2 separate regions of the Homo sapiens genome follow, and region 2 is linked to region 1. The links come from fine-mapping of genetic effects on gene expression. Tissue or cell type: whole blood. Region 1 holds a variant in brackets; the other region holds the start of a gene. All regions are shown on one strand. Distances are between the middles of the regions.

Region 1 (8,259 bases):
AATAAATTGAAAACTTTTATAATCATCCCTCCAACAACACACATACACACACACACACATACACACACTACAATATATCTGAATTGAGAAGCTGCTCACACTTGGAAAAATACACAATTTATTTTTTTCTGGTTTTTTTTTTTTTTTTTTTGAGATGGAGTTTTGCTCTTGTTGCCCAGGCTGGAGTGCAATGGCAAGATCTCGGCTCATGGCAACCTCCGCCTCCTGAGTTCAACCAATTCTCCTGCCTCAGGCTCCCAAATAGCTGGGATTACAAGCATGTGCCACCATGCCTGGCTAATTTTTTTTATATTTTTAGTAGAGACAGGGTTTCTTTATGTTGGTCAGGCTGGTCTCGAGCTCCCAACCTCAGGTGATCTGCCTGCCTCGGCCTCCCAAAGTGCTGAGATTACAAGCGTGAGTCGCCACACCCAGCCAAAATACACAATTTCTAATGGCATACTCAACATAAATATGTATAAAGCATGGAAATAATTCATGGAAGCTTAAGGGTCTTAATGGTTCATGAATGAAAGCTTTTCCTTTGCTTGATTCTCCACTCCCATACCAAGATTTTTGTATGGCAAGGCAATGTACTATAAGATTTGGGATGGATGAAGAGTATGCCTTTTGGAAAATAATAGAAGGCCTATAAAAAACTCAGTGAATTATTGGGAAGATCATTTTTAAGAAAGAAAACAAATGAAAATTGAAGATCTGGAAATAAGATTTCCTTAAAACTGTATGTGCTTGCATTTCTCCTGGGAAATCTTTGAGAACCTGGGGAATGCAGTGCATTTGAAATGGTTTGAAGACTACTGGTCTGTCACTTCAAGAAGCCCAAATCAATGCATGCTGGAGTGGCAGAAACACAGTGTTTTCAGGGAGCTAAAAATTAAGATGTTTTGAATATGCTGAATGGGAAAGAATGCAAATCAAGCAAGTCCTAGTAAAGAAGTTGCAAATGCCTGACTTTGCAGGAAAAGGAAAACAGTTCAAATGCCCGTCAATGAGAAAGGAGGCATTTTTTTCCCCATATATGGTAAACATAGTACCACAATTAACCTGTGGTGGATGTTTTCCCCCAGTGAGTGTATGTTCACAAATCTTTATAGACTATAGACAACTGAAATAAACTGACTGACATCCTACCAAGGCTGCAACCAAGACAGTCTCAGTCACATCCTTTTTTTTTTATTGGCTACAGATGAGCATGTATCTGTTAAGGCCTTTGGCAACCCTAAGGATGACATCCTGGGACAACAGGTTGCCTGAAGTTCCTGGAGTTCTGTAGGCATTGAGGATCAGCTTATTGTAACTTTCTCAGAATATATGTGTAGTGCTGTGATAGTATTATGTATCCAGAATTAAGGGCTTTTTGAACCCTTTTAATTATGGCTGGGAAAGACTAGTACAAATTGAGAAGTCCTGAAGGAACCCCTCCCATTATTGAAGAGACAGCCTGGACTACAGCTGCTGAAGGAAACCCAACTCCCCACACACTGGAATGAGGCCCTCCTGGCTGAGATGAACAGAGTATGAAAATTGAAGAGATTGTACTAACCTGAGAATTTGGGACTTTGGATTATTCCTAAAAGTAAAAAGATTGAAATTTGCTTCCTATTATATTTCCCACTCTCCCACTGAGCAGATTTTGCTCAGCCATGTTGCCCAATATAGGTAAGTAGAAGCTGCAACGAGAGTAAATGGCAATACAAAGATAATCCAAACATACTTGCATGATGACAAACATAAAGATTTCCAAAATTTTGATATGCTCCTATCCCATTTTAAAGTTACCTGGGAAAAAATAAAGGAAAAGAAAAAACTTAAATCCTTTTACTCTAGGAATAATCCAAAGTCCCAGATTCTTGGGTTAATACAATCACTTCAATTTTTATACTTTGTTCATCTCAGCCAGGAAGGCCTCATTCCAGTGTGTGGGGAGCTGGGTTTCTTTCAGCAGCTTTAGTCCAGGCTGTCTGTACAACAATGGGAGGTTCCTTCAGGACTTCTCAGTTTGTACCATTCTTTCCAACCATAATTGAAGGAGTCCAAAAAGCCCTTAATACTGGGGTGAAGGGGGTGGGGAGATTTGTTCCTCTGCTCAAGAGCCCACACGACTTCTTAGTGCTAAAAGAATGTTTCTCGAATTGCATTTCCTAAAACACCAGCATCTCAGAAGAAGTAAATAGGTGCTTTAATAATATTTTTAAATCTGTGACCCTGAAAGTTTGGAATATGTTGCTTAACATTCTATGCCAGATACTGTTCTAGTCACTAGAGATATATGCACGAGCAAAACAAACCAAAACCCCTGCCTATGGAAGCTGCAGGTCAGACAAGAAATACTATAAGTGCTTGAGGACCTTTTGGAAGATTTGCAAAGCAGACCGGCACATCATAAGACAAATTTTGATGTAAAGAAATAGATTTGATTTCATTTACATCAAGACGGCACAAATGTAAGATCCTGGTATAATTACTAACATCCTAAGGAACAATATTTGAGTCACTAGTTTAAGAAACACATGCTTACAACACTGAACACAAGTTACCCTGTCTTCAGTCAATATATCTCCTGATGTCACTGCTGCCCTGTATGGAAACTTTCTAATATAAAAAGAAGCCAAAGATCAGCCAAAAATATATTATGAGCATGGTAAGCTCAGCCCTTAAAAGGGCATGGAGGAAATCATGGGACTTGCTGGCAGGGAAGGGGGAAAGCACCAGGAATGGGGGTTATCAGGAAGAAAACTAATATGCAGATGAATGGAGGACAACACTCTGTGGCCACCACCCCCCCCCGCCCCCCCCCTCACTCCTACCATGAGAGGGAGGCCAATAAGGAACCCACTCTAACAGGGCAGGAGCTGGTCTACTCAGCTTCCAGGCCAGGCATCAATGAACCAGGTGGTCAGACCTGGCAATAGAGCAGGGAACAGCTGGGGAAGTAGGAGCACCAGATCAGGAATTTCACCCTGAATATGATCAGAATGAAGAAATAGCAGAATGGATTCAACTATACAGCCCAAAGGCCAGGGAAGTAGGCTCCAAGCAAGCCCAGGGAGATTTTCCCAGGCTCTTCTGACCTAAAGCATCAAAGATACCCTGCCTCTTTGCTGCCTCATAGAAAGCACTGATGACTAATTCCAAACCCAGCTGGCTTTCACTCACAGTTTAACACCTCTTTTTCAGCCCTTTTTGTTTGTTTGTTTGTTTGTTTTGTTTTGTTTGTTTTTTTTGAGACGGAGTCTCACTCTGTTGCCCAGGCTGGAGTGCAGTGGCGCGATCTCCCCTCACTGCAAGCTCCGCCTCCCAGGTTCACACCATTCTCCTGCCTCAGCCTCCTGAGTAGCTGGGACTACAGGTGCTCGCCACCATGCCCGGCTTATTTTTTTTGCATTTTCAGTACAGATGGGGTTTCACCACGTTAGCCAGGATGGTTTCGATCTCCTGACCTCGTGATCTGCCCGCCTTGGCCTCCCAAAGTGCTGGAATTACAGGCGTGAGCCACTGCGTCCAGCCATTTTCAGCCCTTTTAATTGAACCTGGCACTTTCAGGAAAGTGGTCACAAAAATGGCATAAAAAGCAACAGCCAGCACCTGTACCCCTGCTCAGAAGTTGCTCCAGGTCTCCCTCTCCACCACTAACTCCAATATTTCTTGCTCATCAGTCCCTCGACTTTTTTGTCCATTTTGGTCCTTGTGTCCCTTGGGTCCCTCTGGACTTGATGGTTGATCACCACCTGCCCCTGCATGTGATTGTCAGCACTGGCTCATCAGCTCCAAGTGCTGCCCCAGCACCCCAGCCTGTGGCCCTTCCTTCCCTTTGTCCCTGTCAAGACATGGAGAGTGGCCCTTGAGGACCTTCCTGTTGTTGGGGTCGGGGGTGATAATACCCAGGACCTGCTGCACTGACATGGGGGCCTGTGGGAGGAGTGGGGGTGAGGCAGGACCAGCATGTCAGTCAAGCCAGAAGGGCCTGCACCAAACCAACCAAACACTCAGGAAGGAGAGAAAGCAAACCCTGGGCTCGGCAGAGAGGCTGAATTTGGAGAGGAGCCGACATGGAAAGAGATTTGTTATTTGTGGTAGGCTTTTATTTGGTGGTGGGAAAAGAATGGCAAATATGTAACACAATATTTCTGTAACTATAAATAACCATAAATACCTTTCATAATGAAAACCTTATGGAATCTGCTTTACTGGGAGGTTTTTAAAATAGCAAAGGGTAAGGGAGGGAAATAACATGTATTTAACCCACACTATGTGCTAAACACCTTCCATATGCCTTTGCTTAGTCCTCTCACTTTTCTTCTGGAGAAGGTTTACCAATTTATAGAGGAGGAAAACGAGGCTGAGAGAGGTTCAGGAACTTAACTGAGGCTCCATGGTGAACCACAGATAGAAAGTAGATAGGCCAGGCTCCAAATCCCTCCCTCTTTCTGGAATCAAGCACAAGCCTGCCTAGAGGCAGGGGCTAGACTATATGATCTTTCTAGATTCTTCTCTGTTGTCAGGATTTCTAGAATTAGCTTATTCCCTGCAGGTGCCTCAATTCTTTCAGGATAGTAAGGACCCATCGGGTAAACTGTGAACATTAACTCAACAGAGAAGAGGGGGATCAGGTTCCAATTTACTCCTGTGGCCTGACAGTGTTCTACCCAGGAAAGCAAAAGACCTCAGGGAGCTCAGGTTTTATCTTCAGGACACAGGCTCTGGGAAGGGTGGGAGTAATAATGAAAGTAGAATTGGGAGATGCTGGGCTCTGCCACCATCTTGCTGTGTGACCTTGGATAAGTTTCTCCCCACTCTGGGCTCCAGTTTTCACATCTGGAAAATGCAGAGTTGGGTTAGGTGCTCAGGAAGCCTCAGCCCAGCTCTGACAGTTTTGTTTCACAA[AT/T]GCTGGAGTTGACTTTGGTGGTTTGAGTAAGATGTTTCCCAATAAAGTCCACATCAGTAGCTTCCCCAAGCCTGGCTCAGCCCCTCTTTCTCTCCTTTCCTCCAAGGGTCCACACAAGCACCCCTCCCTGCAGCCCAGCCTGCACTGACCTGAACCTCCCGTGTCAGGGCCAGCTCCAGCAGCTGACCAAAGTGCTGGCCCAGCATGCTCAGGGTCTCACTCACGCAGGCCTTCATTGACTTCAGGACATGCTCATTCTCAACCTGAAGGCACCTGAAGAGAAGAAACCATGGGGTGGGCCACTGGAAAGGGCATGTGGTCAGCCCAGAAATGTTGCACGGGCCAGAACTGGACCTGCTACAAGCCTGGTGTGTGCTGAAGACATTGGCAACTGGGAGTCAGAGATGGAATATTCCACAGCTGGCTTGCCCACTGGTCTCTTAGTGTGCAGAGATGTGCTGGCCTGAGATGAGGACTACCAGTCCACATCAACAGGAAGAAAGGCCATCAGAATGTGGAAAATCTATACCTCTGGGCTTCTCCCTGCAGAATCTGCCATCATTGCAGCCAGGGTCTATCTTCTCTGTGATGTTGGGGTGGGAGATGAAGGGGCAAGAAGCTTCAAAGAGAGGTGCCAAGTGCCAGGTATTGCTAGTGAGCTCTGAAAAGGTGGATAGCAATGCCTGTGGCCCTTTAAGAAATGGCTGCCTAGAGTGTGCAGAGAGCCTTGAGAATTTTCTTCCCAGACAAGAAAAACAGAGGGGGATCAGGTTCCAATTTACTCCTGTGGCCTGACAGTGTTCTACCCAGGAAAGCAAAAGACCTCAGGGAGCTCAGGTTTTATCTTCAGGACACAGGCTCTGGGAAGGGTGAAGGAAAAAGTCAACACACACCTGGGTGTGTATACATGTGAGGCTGAGTGTGTGTACATATCTGAGTATAAACATATGTAGGTTTATGTGTGTGAAATATGGAGGAAAGGGTGTGAATGTATTTCTGTGCTGGTCCAAGCATGTGTTTATATATCTGTATATGAGAAAGTGAGTGTGGGCATTGAAGTCTATGTGTATGTGCGTGTGTAAGGGTGTGAGTGTCGGCTTTCACCTTGCCTTGACTCTTGCCTTGACTTTGGGGATCTGTGGGTCTTCCCAAAGCTGTGGGAAACCTTTTCCTTGTTACCAACTCCTAGAAAATCCTCTTTCTTCCTATGCCCAGGCCTCTCCTCTGCCTTTTACCCTATCCCTAGGGCCTGAACATGGGGCAGAAAATTTCAAGAGAATATTTTAAGATTTCTGATAAAAGTCAGAAAAAGGAAACTCTGAAACCACCACCACGCCTCCCATTCCCATTCTCCCTCTGGGAGAAGATACCAGCCCCTTCTCCTGCCAGAGGTCGGGTGGGCAGACCCTGGGAGATCTATGGTCCAAATTTACCTCTCTGTGACTGCCGAGAGCTCCGAGCATTTCTCCATTAGCAGCTTCTCAATCTGTAGAAAAATAAGTCCATTTTATTCAACTCAGTAAGCATTAACTGAGGACCAACTGCTGTGCTGAGCACACGGGGACATTAAACATGAAGAATCAATTAATGTGACTTGGGGAACAGGCAGTTAAAATATAACACAGTGTGATACAGGTGGTGAAAGAGCTCACGGTAGGCTGCTTTGGGAGTATAAGAAAATGAAACTGAGCAGTTATTTATGCTGAGGAAGCTGGGAAGCTTCAGGAAAGAAGGGGCATTTGAGCTGGGTTTTGAAGAATGAAGAGAAGTTTTAATGTCTGCAAAGCTAAGGAAGGAAAAGTTCGAGGCAAAGGGCAAAGCACTAATGTGAAATGAGAATGATGAAAGAGAATTAATAACAAGGGAGATTTTTAATGGTTCACCTTGGGCTTTGAGAAGAAGATTCAAAGTCATGGGCTGTGGACTCAGAAAAGCTTAGATTGGACCCTACTTATTACACCATTCACTGCGTAACTTTAAATAAATTATTTGGCCTCTTAGAACTTTTGTTTCCTCATCTATAAAATAAAGGTAATCCTAACATTTTTAATCAATTGCTTTAAGTGTTTTGCATATAACAATTCATCTAGTCCTCACAACAAATTTATAAAATAAATTATATTATTATACCTTTTAGGATGAAGGAACTGGGACACAGAGAAGTTAAGTAACTTGCTGAGGTCCACATAGCAGAGCTAACATTTCAACCCAAGCAGTCTGGCATTAAAGTCAATATATTCAACCACTGCACAGCTTCTCAAAGTAGTGGCACCTACCTCACAGGTTGTGCAGGTTAAATGAGATACATGTAAAAAAAAAACACCTAGCACAATGTCCACCACATAGTAGGCACTCAGTAAAGATTCCACTCTCTTTCTTTCCTCCTTTACTGGAAGGGGAGAAAGGCTTCTGGAGCAAAAAAGATTCAGACACCACATGATTCAAACCCACTCTTCTCTAAAGCACCCTGACTTCCAGTTCCCGCCCACTCCTATCCCAGGGCAGCTGACCTCGCCCATTTCCTTCAAGGAGTTCCTGCTGACAGCACTGTACTCGCTGACCATGGAGCGGGCATGGCAGGTCAGACGCACGCTCATGCTGTGCACCCGTGCCCAGCGGTCCTGGGCCAGCTTCTGCCCGATCCTGCGCAGCTCTGTGCTAATGACCCAACCCCGTTTGAGCAGCAGCTGCAGGGGGTCTCCAGGGCCAGGGCCACCTGCCAGGATGAGGTCACCCTGTGCATCCTCTTCCAGGCTGATGGGCTTGGCCTGCAGGACACACATGCACTCGCACTCGGTCATGAGCTTCAGATCTTCCATCCAGCGCTGGACTGAGTCCACCTGCATCAGGTGTAGCCTGCAACCAGGAAACAGCACCACGATAATTATCAACACCCCATGATTTCCAAAGGTCTCAATTCTAGGCCATCTGATATTTACTAAGCACCTATTATATGTTTAGCAGTGTTTCTCCCATTCATGCACCTTGATATTCTCAGTCATTTCTCATTCTCTTCATCTTATGGATAAGAAGTCTGAAGCATAAAGTTTTAAGGGCAGATGACCAGACTAACAAGCAACAGGTAATTATGTCTGACAGAGTAGCCAATGATCTTTACAATAAGGGGGAAATGGAAGGGTGAGGCAGGAATATTGCTTGAGGCCAGGAGTTCAAGACCAGCCTGGGCAACATAGCAAGATCCCATCTCTTTAAAAAAAGTTAATGGAAATAGCCTAAATATCAAATAATGGTTACACTAAGTGAGCTATGGTATAGCTATGATTATGTAGTACGCAATTATTTAAAATGATGCTTTCCAAAAGTTTATAGCTAAGAAAAATGTGTGTGCTAAT
Region 2 (8,000 bases), 64 kb after region 1:
CTGGGCAGAGGCTTGGTTCCCAGGACAGAGGTTGCTCCATGGAGAAGTGAAGGCACAGAAGTTCAACACTGCCCACTGCATGTTGGTGGGGGGTTGAAAGACAGAGGGAGAGATCCCCACACAACCCAGGAGGCCTTTCCCACCCCTTCAATCCCTGCTTCTCACACAGCAACAGTCTCCAGCTGAGGCTGGAAAGGCCAATGATGCTGATCACGTTGAGGTCCTGGAGACAGACAGAGAAGTCAAGCCCCTTAGCCTCATTCCCCAATTTGCCCAAAGGAGTAGTTTTTTCTGCTTTGAAAGCCTTTGAAATGAGGGAGTTGCCGGCATCTCTCGTGGTCAGTGGACATTCACTACACACTCTGGAGTTAGACAGATCTGGAAAGGAATCTTTGCTAGCTCTGACCTTGGGCTAGTTGTTTAGCCTTGCTGTGTTTCTGTTTCCTTATATTTAAAATAGTCTTCACTATTTCATAGAGTTGGTATAGAGGTTTCATGAAACAAAAGATGGAAAGAGCCTAAAAAGGAAGCTGGACAGTAGTCAATAATAAATAAAAGTGAGTTACTGTGAGTTACCTTTCCTGCACAGAAGTCCTAACTATCTCACACAATGCTCTTACTGGCTTTTAAGCCTGTTTTCACTTGGTTGAGCTTAAAGCCCAGGGGACAACCAGAGTCTAAATAGTGTGAAAATTCAGCAGAGATGTGGTCCAGTCTTAGTCTTACCTTTTTAAGATAACACTTTTCTGGGAAGGAAAAAACACCTCACCCATACCAAGCCACCAGCACATTACTCAGTACCAGGCCACAGGGGATTTCCTCTTTCCTACCTTGTGATCAAATGCTTCTGGGAGGATATATCTTGAAGGCAGGCAATGGCCACCAGCTTGGGTTGACATAAGATATAATGAGAAGCAGGACCTCAATGCAATGCCTGAAAGCCCACCATTCAAGTTATTCTAATCATTCTTTGTTGCTAAGCTTTACCCTCCAGCTTTCTCCTTTCCAAACATGAGTGGTCTTGGGCAGCATAAAATAATTTGACTTGGAGTGAATTAGAAGTTTCACCAACTTTGCAATGTGGCTAGAACCCTGCCCTGCATTCAGATGAGGTGCACCTCTGCAGATAAGAGGTGACAAATGATTCCCTGACCACTTAGCCTCACAGACCCAGGCAAGGAGGCAGTAAAGCCCTTCATGTGCTCCTCCACACTCCTAAGTCCAAGCTCCCCATCCCAAGCTCCAGTTCCACAAGGGCCATCCCTGATCAGAGATGTTGTGTTCCATACTGGGGGAGGGCTCAGATCCAAGAGACACAGAGAGCCCTGAGTTGGGCAGGGTCACATGAGGAAGGGGTGGCTGCGGGGCCAGGGCCAGGCTTAGGGCAAGGGTCAAACTCCTTCGGGCACCCAGACACTTGAGCTTTTGAGACAGGGAAGAGCTGGCAGCTGAAACACTCGGAGCAGGGGGTGTTTATCAATGGCCCAATTCATTCTCAACTATCCCCCTTGTCTGAGCCAGCACAGAGATGGGCATTATGTCCCAGAGCTACTAGGAAAAAAACCTCCAAGACATCGTCACCAATTAGAGTTCAAAGGTACAGAAGCCAAATTGAGACATATGAGTTGAAAACCAGATGACATATTTGAAATTGAGGATGTCCCAGGAAAATCCAGTGTGATTCCCATCCCCAGAGACCAATAGAATGCTTAATTGCTGGTTTTTCATTTATTTGTTCTGATTTCCTTCAACAAAGGATGTGGAAGTTTACAGTTAAAAATATGTATTCTATAAAGTTGATAAAGCAGAAATTAGAAGTCAAAGCAATGGTTCCAACTAACATAGTTATTACAACAGAGCCATATGATGGACTAAGAGCTTCCCAGCAAGCAGAGTGACAAGGGAAGCACAATGGGAAAATAATTCCTTCCCCTGCCACCTTTATTCTGCTGGACTGACCATAGCCTGCCCTTTTTTAACCATTCCCAAGGGTCAGGTGTAGGATCAGGCCAAAGAGAAGCTAGATCCCAGCATTCCCCTCAAAAAATGGTTGAACCCAACTTGCTCTCCTGCATATTAGAGGAGTTGGTGGGTGAGAGCTTAGTCACCCCTTAGACTAAACCATAAACACTAAGAAAGAAGAAACTCAGGCCAGGCATGGTGGCTCACACCTGTTATCCCAGCAGTATCGGAGGCCTAGGCAGGCAGATCACCTGAGGTCAGGAGTTCAAGACCAGCCTGACCAACATGGAAAAACCCCATCTCTACTAAAAATACAAAAATTAGCTGGGCATGGTGGTGGGGGTCTATAATCCCAGCTACTCAGGGGCTGAGGCAGGAGAATCGCTTGAATCCGGGGGGCAGAGGTTGCAATGAGCTGAGATCATGCCACTGCACTCCAGCCTGGGCGATAGAGCAAGACTCCATCAAAGAAGGAAGGAAAGAAGGAAGGAAGGAAGGAAGGAAGGAGGGAGGGAGGGAGGGAGGGAGGGAGGGAGGGAGGGAGGGAGGGGGAGAGAGAGAGAGAGAGAGAGAGAGAGAGAAAGAAAGAAAGAAAGAAAGAAAGAAAGAAAGAAAGAAAGAAAAGAAAGAAAAGAAAAGAAAGGAAGGAAGAAAAAAAGAAAGAATGGAAGGAAGGAAGGAAGGAAAAGAGAGAAAGAGAAGGAAGGAAGAAAGGAAGGGAAGGAAGGAAGCTCAATACCATCTTTCTAACTTCCCAGCTGAAAGAGCACATTTAGTCTGGGTACCTCACTGAAGTATTCAGAAGAGAATAGCCAGGATGGGACAGGTCTAGAAGCTCTACTAAGAAGAATAACACCACCACTCAGCTGGTATTTTAGGGCACCTACTCTTCCAAGCGCTGTATAGTGTGTGCCCAGTGGTCACCAGGGGGAGGAGGTCATGGAGAAGATTCTGTCCAGAAAAAAAGATAACCACTGGAAGAAAGGAAAGGAGCAGAGCAAATGCCATCCCTCCACCAGCCTGTGGGAGGGAGACTCAAAGTAGGGTTGAACGAAACCAAAGAAGAGAAAGAATCAACCCAGCTCAATTCACTGTCCTCCCTGCCAAATGGTTGCCTTGGGACCCAACCCAGAAAGGTCACTGCTTCTCTGCAGCAAGTGTAATCCAGAGTATAAACTACAGCATGGAGCAAATTATATATGCTGAGCTCCATGTCAGATCCCAGCCTGACCTGGCTTGCCTTCCAAAGGCAGTGTTTGGAAGTTTTCACTTCTAAAAGGGCGAACAGTGCTTCTAAGTCCCAGAGCTAAAGGGACAAGATGCTCTCTGGCTGAGCTCCATGGACAGCCTCAGTTTCAGATTCAATGGAACCCCTCAAAGGCACCACATCACCATCTGCCCTGACCCCCACAGCCAAAGTCCCTGACTTAAAATATTCCCCACTGAGGCCAGTTTCTTGGACCCATTGTCAGAGGTATAATATATAGATTAAAAGGGGCAAAAGTGGGAGGAGGCTAGCGGCTGAGGGTGGGGCCACACCAGGGATACATTTGCGCATATGCATTGAACAAAGTGGGTGCATGTTGCATACATGTCGTTGTCCACAGGTATACATGTTGAAAGTGTGAATGGTTGCATGGCTATCCTGAGAAGAGTGTGTGCAAGACTGGTGCACATGGACAGGAATGTGTGTATGCTGAGCATGTAAGCGTGGGTGCACTGCGAGTGTTTGTGGGTGGCCATGGCCATATGGTCCACTCATCCCCTGGCCTCCTGTCTCTTCTCCTGGTTTAAGAGTGGGGTCTCCCAAGCTGTCTCCCTGACCCTGGTCTAGCCAGATGGGGTTAGTCAGAGCCACATTCACTCCAGTGTTGTGTGAGGGCTCTGAGCTTCTGTCCTTCTCCAAGCCCTGAGAAACCAAAGCTGAATGACCCACAGAGAAGACACCCCAGCTGGGACAAGTCAGGTCACCTTAGAAAGCCTGAGTTCAGATAACACTCCCTAGCCCCAATTTCTGCCTTCCTGGGTTCACACTGGCACATCCACTCATCCACATGTGGACTGGCTCAGCCCACCTGGGGGCCTTCCTGCCACACACACAGGCATTTCCACAGGTACAGACACAGTGCACCCAGGGCAGCAGGTGCCACACAGGCAAATACCTGTGGCCCACTCCAGGCCACCACACACTCTGACACACTCGTTCACCCACACTCGCACCCTGGGGCACATGCTAGAAAATTCCACATGTGGACATCCCATCCAGACACACTCCCTCACACTGGCGCAAGCTCCCCTTCACAAGCACTCCCACTGACACACTTACACCTACTATCCAATTAGTGACAAACCTGCACTGTTCCCAACTAGGCTAGCAGAGGCATCACCAGCCCCCTGAATCCAGCTAGGGGAGCTGTCTACTTACTTAGCGTGCGAGACAGGCTGGTAGTGCGAGCGGCCAGTGGTGGCGGGGCGCAGCTGGAGCTCCAGAGGCCGCGCGCAAAGTGGCCGCTCTGCCGGCCCAGCCCGAGAGGCCGCCCCTGGCCCCCGCCCCACCCCCCGCCCCGTTCTCCCCCGCCCGCCCTCTCCGAGGCGGTCGCAGCCTCCCAAGGACCTTCCACAGCAGCGCGCTCCCTGCCAAGCCTTGGTCCCGCGTCAGCCACGGCTGCCTGCTGTCTCCGCGGGACTACGAGGCTATTTCGGTGCCCCTGGGGGGGGAAACATGGCCCTCCCTCCCATCTGCAGGAGCGCTGGAATGGGGACGCGGTCAGGCCTAATTAGAGACCGGGCTCCCCCGGGCCAGGCGGCAGGCACCAGGGTGATCGCCCGGGAGCCGCGAAGCCGTCCAGGCGGGGTCGCCCACAAGGTGCCCCGCATGCCAACATCTGGAGAGGGGAAGGGAATGTGCCGCGATCGTTTCCCTTGGAGCTGAAACAAAACAAGGAGGGATTTGGGTGCAGTTCACTTGCTAGGAAGGAGGAAGCCACCCAGCTTTGATAGACCCCAAACGCCTAGAATGAGACGGTTTATTCACCGCAGGTGCTTCCCTCTGGAACCTTGCTCACACACACCTAAGTCACCCTCCACATCTTGGACCTGCCAAAAATGACGAGGGGTTGTTGCAGAAACTCCTTCTAACTTCGGCACATAAGATCAGACCCCACCCCCCACCCCCCACCCCCGTCCTGGACTCTGTCAAATAGCTAAATCTAGAGGAACTTGATTCCTACCCAAAAGCTCGGGAATGTGGCATTTTTGACCTGGAAGAAAGCTTCCAGATCATTTCATACAACTCCCCCTCCCCCGCCTCCGCCATCTTGCTATGAGGCTCCCAGAGCCCAGAGAATCTTGACCTATTCTTGGAGGTCCTCAAGCAAAGGCAGCCCCTGGTCTCCCTTGAGCCCTGTTCCAAAGCTTGAACTCTCTTACTGACAGAAAGATCTCCTTGACATCTAACCTAAATCTCTCACATGCAAACTATGTCAATTTGCTCACAATATGTATTCAGGGAGAAGGAGCTCAACTCAGTCCCCATGACAAAACGACCACGCCGAGGTCCCACTGCAGCCTTCTCTTCCTTAATGCTAATAATCTCTATTTCTTTTTTCAGGCTCTGGCTGAAGCTAACTGCTGCTCCCTGGACTCGAACACACACAGTAGCTCTCTGATATTAACTCTCCTCCTCAGCTCTCTGGGGGCCCAGGGCTCAGAAGGTGGCCAAATCATTCCTCTCAGACAAGCCAGCTTCAACTCTACCCTCCAGTCATCCAGAACAGCCTGATTCTACTCCCCAAGTTCCCTGAGAGGGGCCTCAGTTCCTGTTTCAACAAGTGCTGTCTAGGGCTGGGGACAGGGCTTGGTGCCGCCTGGCTGGGCATTACCACTGAAACCACAGTCTTACAGACTGTTTGCAGAATCTTCTCTCTGAGTCTGTTTCCGGTAGGGCAGGTGGTATGATAAGAATAGTCTCAGCCGGGAGTGGTGGCTCACGCCTGTAATCCCAGCTCTTTGGGAGGCCAAGGTGGATAGATCACAAAGTCCGGAGATTAAGTCCATCCTGGCCGACATGGTGAAACCCCATCTCTACTAATAATACAAAAATTAACTGGGCGAGTTGTCATGTGCCTGTTACCCCAGCTACTCAGGAGGCTGAGGCAAGAGAATAGCTTGAACCAATGAGTCGGAGGTTGCAGTGAGCCAGTGAGCCAAGATTGTGCCACTGCACATCAGCCTGGCAACAGAGTGAGATTGCATCAAAAAAGAAAGAGAGAGAGAGAGAGACAGAAAGAAAGAAAGAAAGAAAGAAAGAGAGAGAGAGAAAAGAAAGAAAGAGGAAGGAAGGAAGAAAGGAAGGGAGGGAAGAGAGGGAAGGAAAGGAAGGGAAGGAAAGAAGTCTCCAATTCTTCCTCAAAGAAACCTGTTTTGCATCCTGCCTCTACTACTTTCTAGTGATGAGTCCTTGGACAAATCACTTAACCTCTCTGAGCATCAGTTTTCCCATATGTACATTGGGGAACATAAAAATCTCTGCCCAGCTCATGAGGTTGTTGAAAGTATGAAGTGAGGTCAAGGATGTAAAGCACCTGGAAAACTAAGATATTTTATTATATGCTAGAAATAGAATGAGGCTTAGATCATAAACAGATCGATGTTAGCAAAAAAGCCTCAAAGTTCTTTTATTTCCAGGCCCAAACTCTGTGTCTGGGTTTCAGGGTAAGAGAGGAACAGACTTGGTTTGTTAGATGTTCCCTGGAGGCACTTGGCATAAATGCCCCCCCCCCACTTCCCAATACACACACACACACACACACACACACACACACACACACACACACACTCACATCCACCTTCCCAGATACATACGGCACAGCACAGCCTCCTGGACTCCTGGACTCCCCATAGACCCCAGCCACCTGGACCTTCGCTGGCCGCCTCTCCATTGCCAGGGGGCCGTCTCATGGCTCCAGCCTTGGCTGCAGCGACTCCAAGTCTCCTTACAGAGGCCCCTGTGAACAGCTTCTTTCCCTTTGCCCACCCTTCTGGGCCATGGCCCTGAGAAGGCCTGTGACTCAAGGCAAAGCTTGTCCAAGGCAGTTCAGTACTGAGGCTGCCCAAGGGAGCTCAGAGTTGAAGCTTCCTCCCCCTCGACCCCCTCCCCTCTGTCTGCCTGACTTCTCAATGCTGTGCTGTCCTGCTTAATTCTTAATGGAAATTCCATCCCCGGCGCCGGCCCTAGCTGGCTCAGGGAGTCCAGGCTTGGGCCAACAGCAAACTCCACCAGAGAGACTGGGCCTGTCTGGCTATATAAACACACCTAAACACATATATACATGTGTGTATACACACACCAGCAGCAAGACATGCTCAGAGACATTTACAAACTCAGATATTCTCATCCAGACACATCCAGACACAAAGATAATATACATTCTAATCATTAACATTTATTGCATATACGAGAACTTCATAGGTATCAATTGCTCTAATCCTTAGAACAGTACTAGGTTCTGGTATTATCCCTATTTTACACATGAAGAAACTGAGGCCCAGGGAGGGCCTCAGTAAGTAACTTACCCAAGACATTGATAATAACAGCCTAACACATGAGCACCAGGAACTGTGCTAAGAAGCTTATGTGCATGTTTCATTTTGCTGCCATAGTAACCTTTTATAAAAGTTATTATTATCCCCATAATACAGACACAGAAAAGGGAGGCCAGGTGGTTTAAATCACCTGTCTGTGGCCTCACAGCTGGTGAGATGGAGACTCTACACAAATACACATGGGAATCCTTATGGATGCACAGAAAGACACACAGGTAAAGACACATGCACATGCTCAGAGGTGTACCCACAAATAGCTTATTTCACCTAAACCAAAGTAGGCGCCTCAGGACTGGTCCAGAGCTGTATCAGGCAAAGGTCCCCTCCAGCCTGACTCCACATTCTTCTCCTGTCCAGATGGCCTATCCCAGATCCACCAGCTTCACACATCACTTTAGGAAGGACAAGTTCAGACCTAAATGGAGGAAAGACTT

The links. PIP is the estimated chance that this variant, and not a neighbour inherited with it, causes the effect.
Region 2: it holds the start of INSC, and the variant in region 1 is fine-mapped to the expression of INSC in whole blood (TOPMed, PIP above 0.99).

What each region holds. Positions count from the first base shown.
Region 1 is chr11:15,175,244-15,183,502 of GRCh38, reverse strand. INSC (INSC spindle orientation adaptor protein) reads right to left here. Exons shown (of 13, transcript NM_001042536.3): 3 at 7,417-7,762; 4 at 6,340-6,392; 5 at 5,056-5,179. Among named protein-coding and RNA genes, the nearest start is that of INSC, 64 kb to the right of the region's middle. RefSeq lists enhancers at 7,039-7,560, 7,561-8,084. The variant AT/T (reference allele first, on the strand shown) is at 4,906.
Region 2 is chr11:15,111,391-15,119,390 of GRCh38, reverse strand. It overlaps INSC (INSC spindle orientation adaptor protein), which reads right to left and starts at 4,468. Exons shown (of 13, transcript NM_001042536.3): 1 at 4,388-4,468. RefSeq lists enhancers at 4,761-5,294, 5,946-5,995.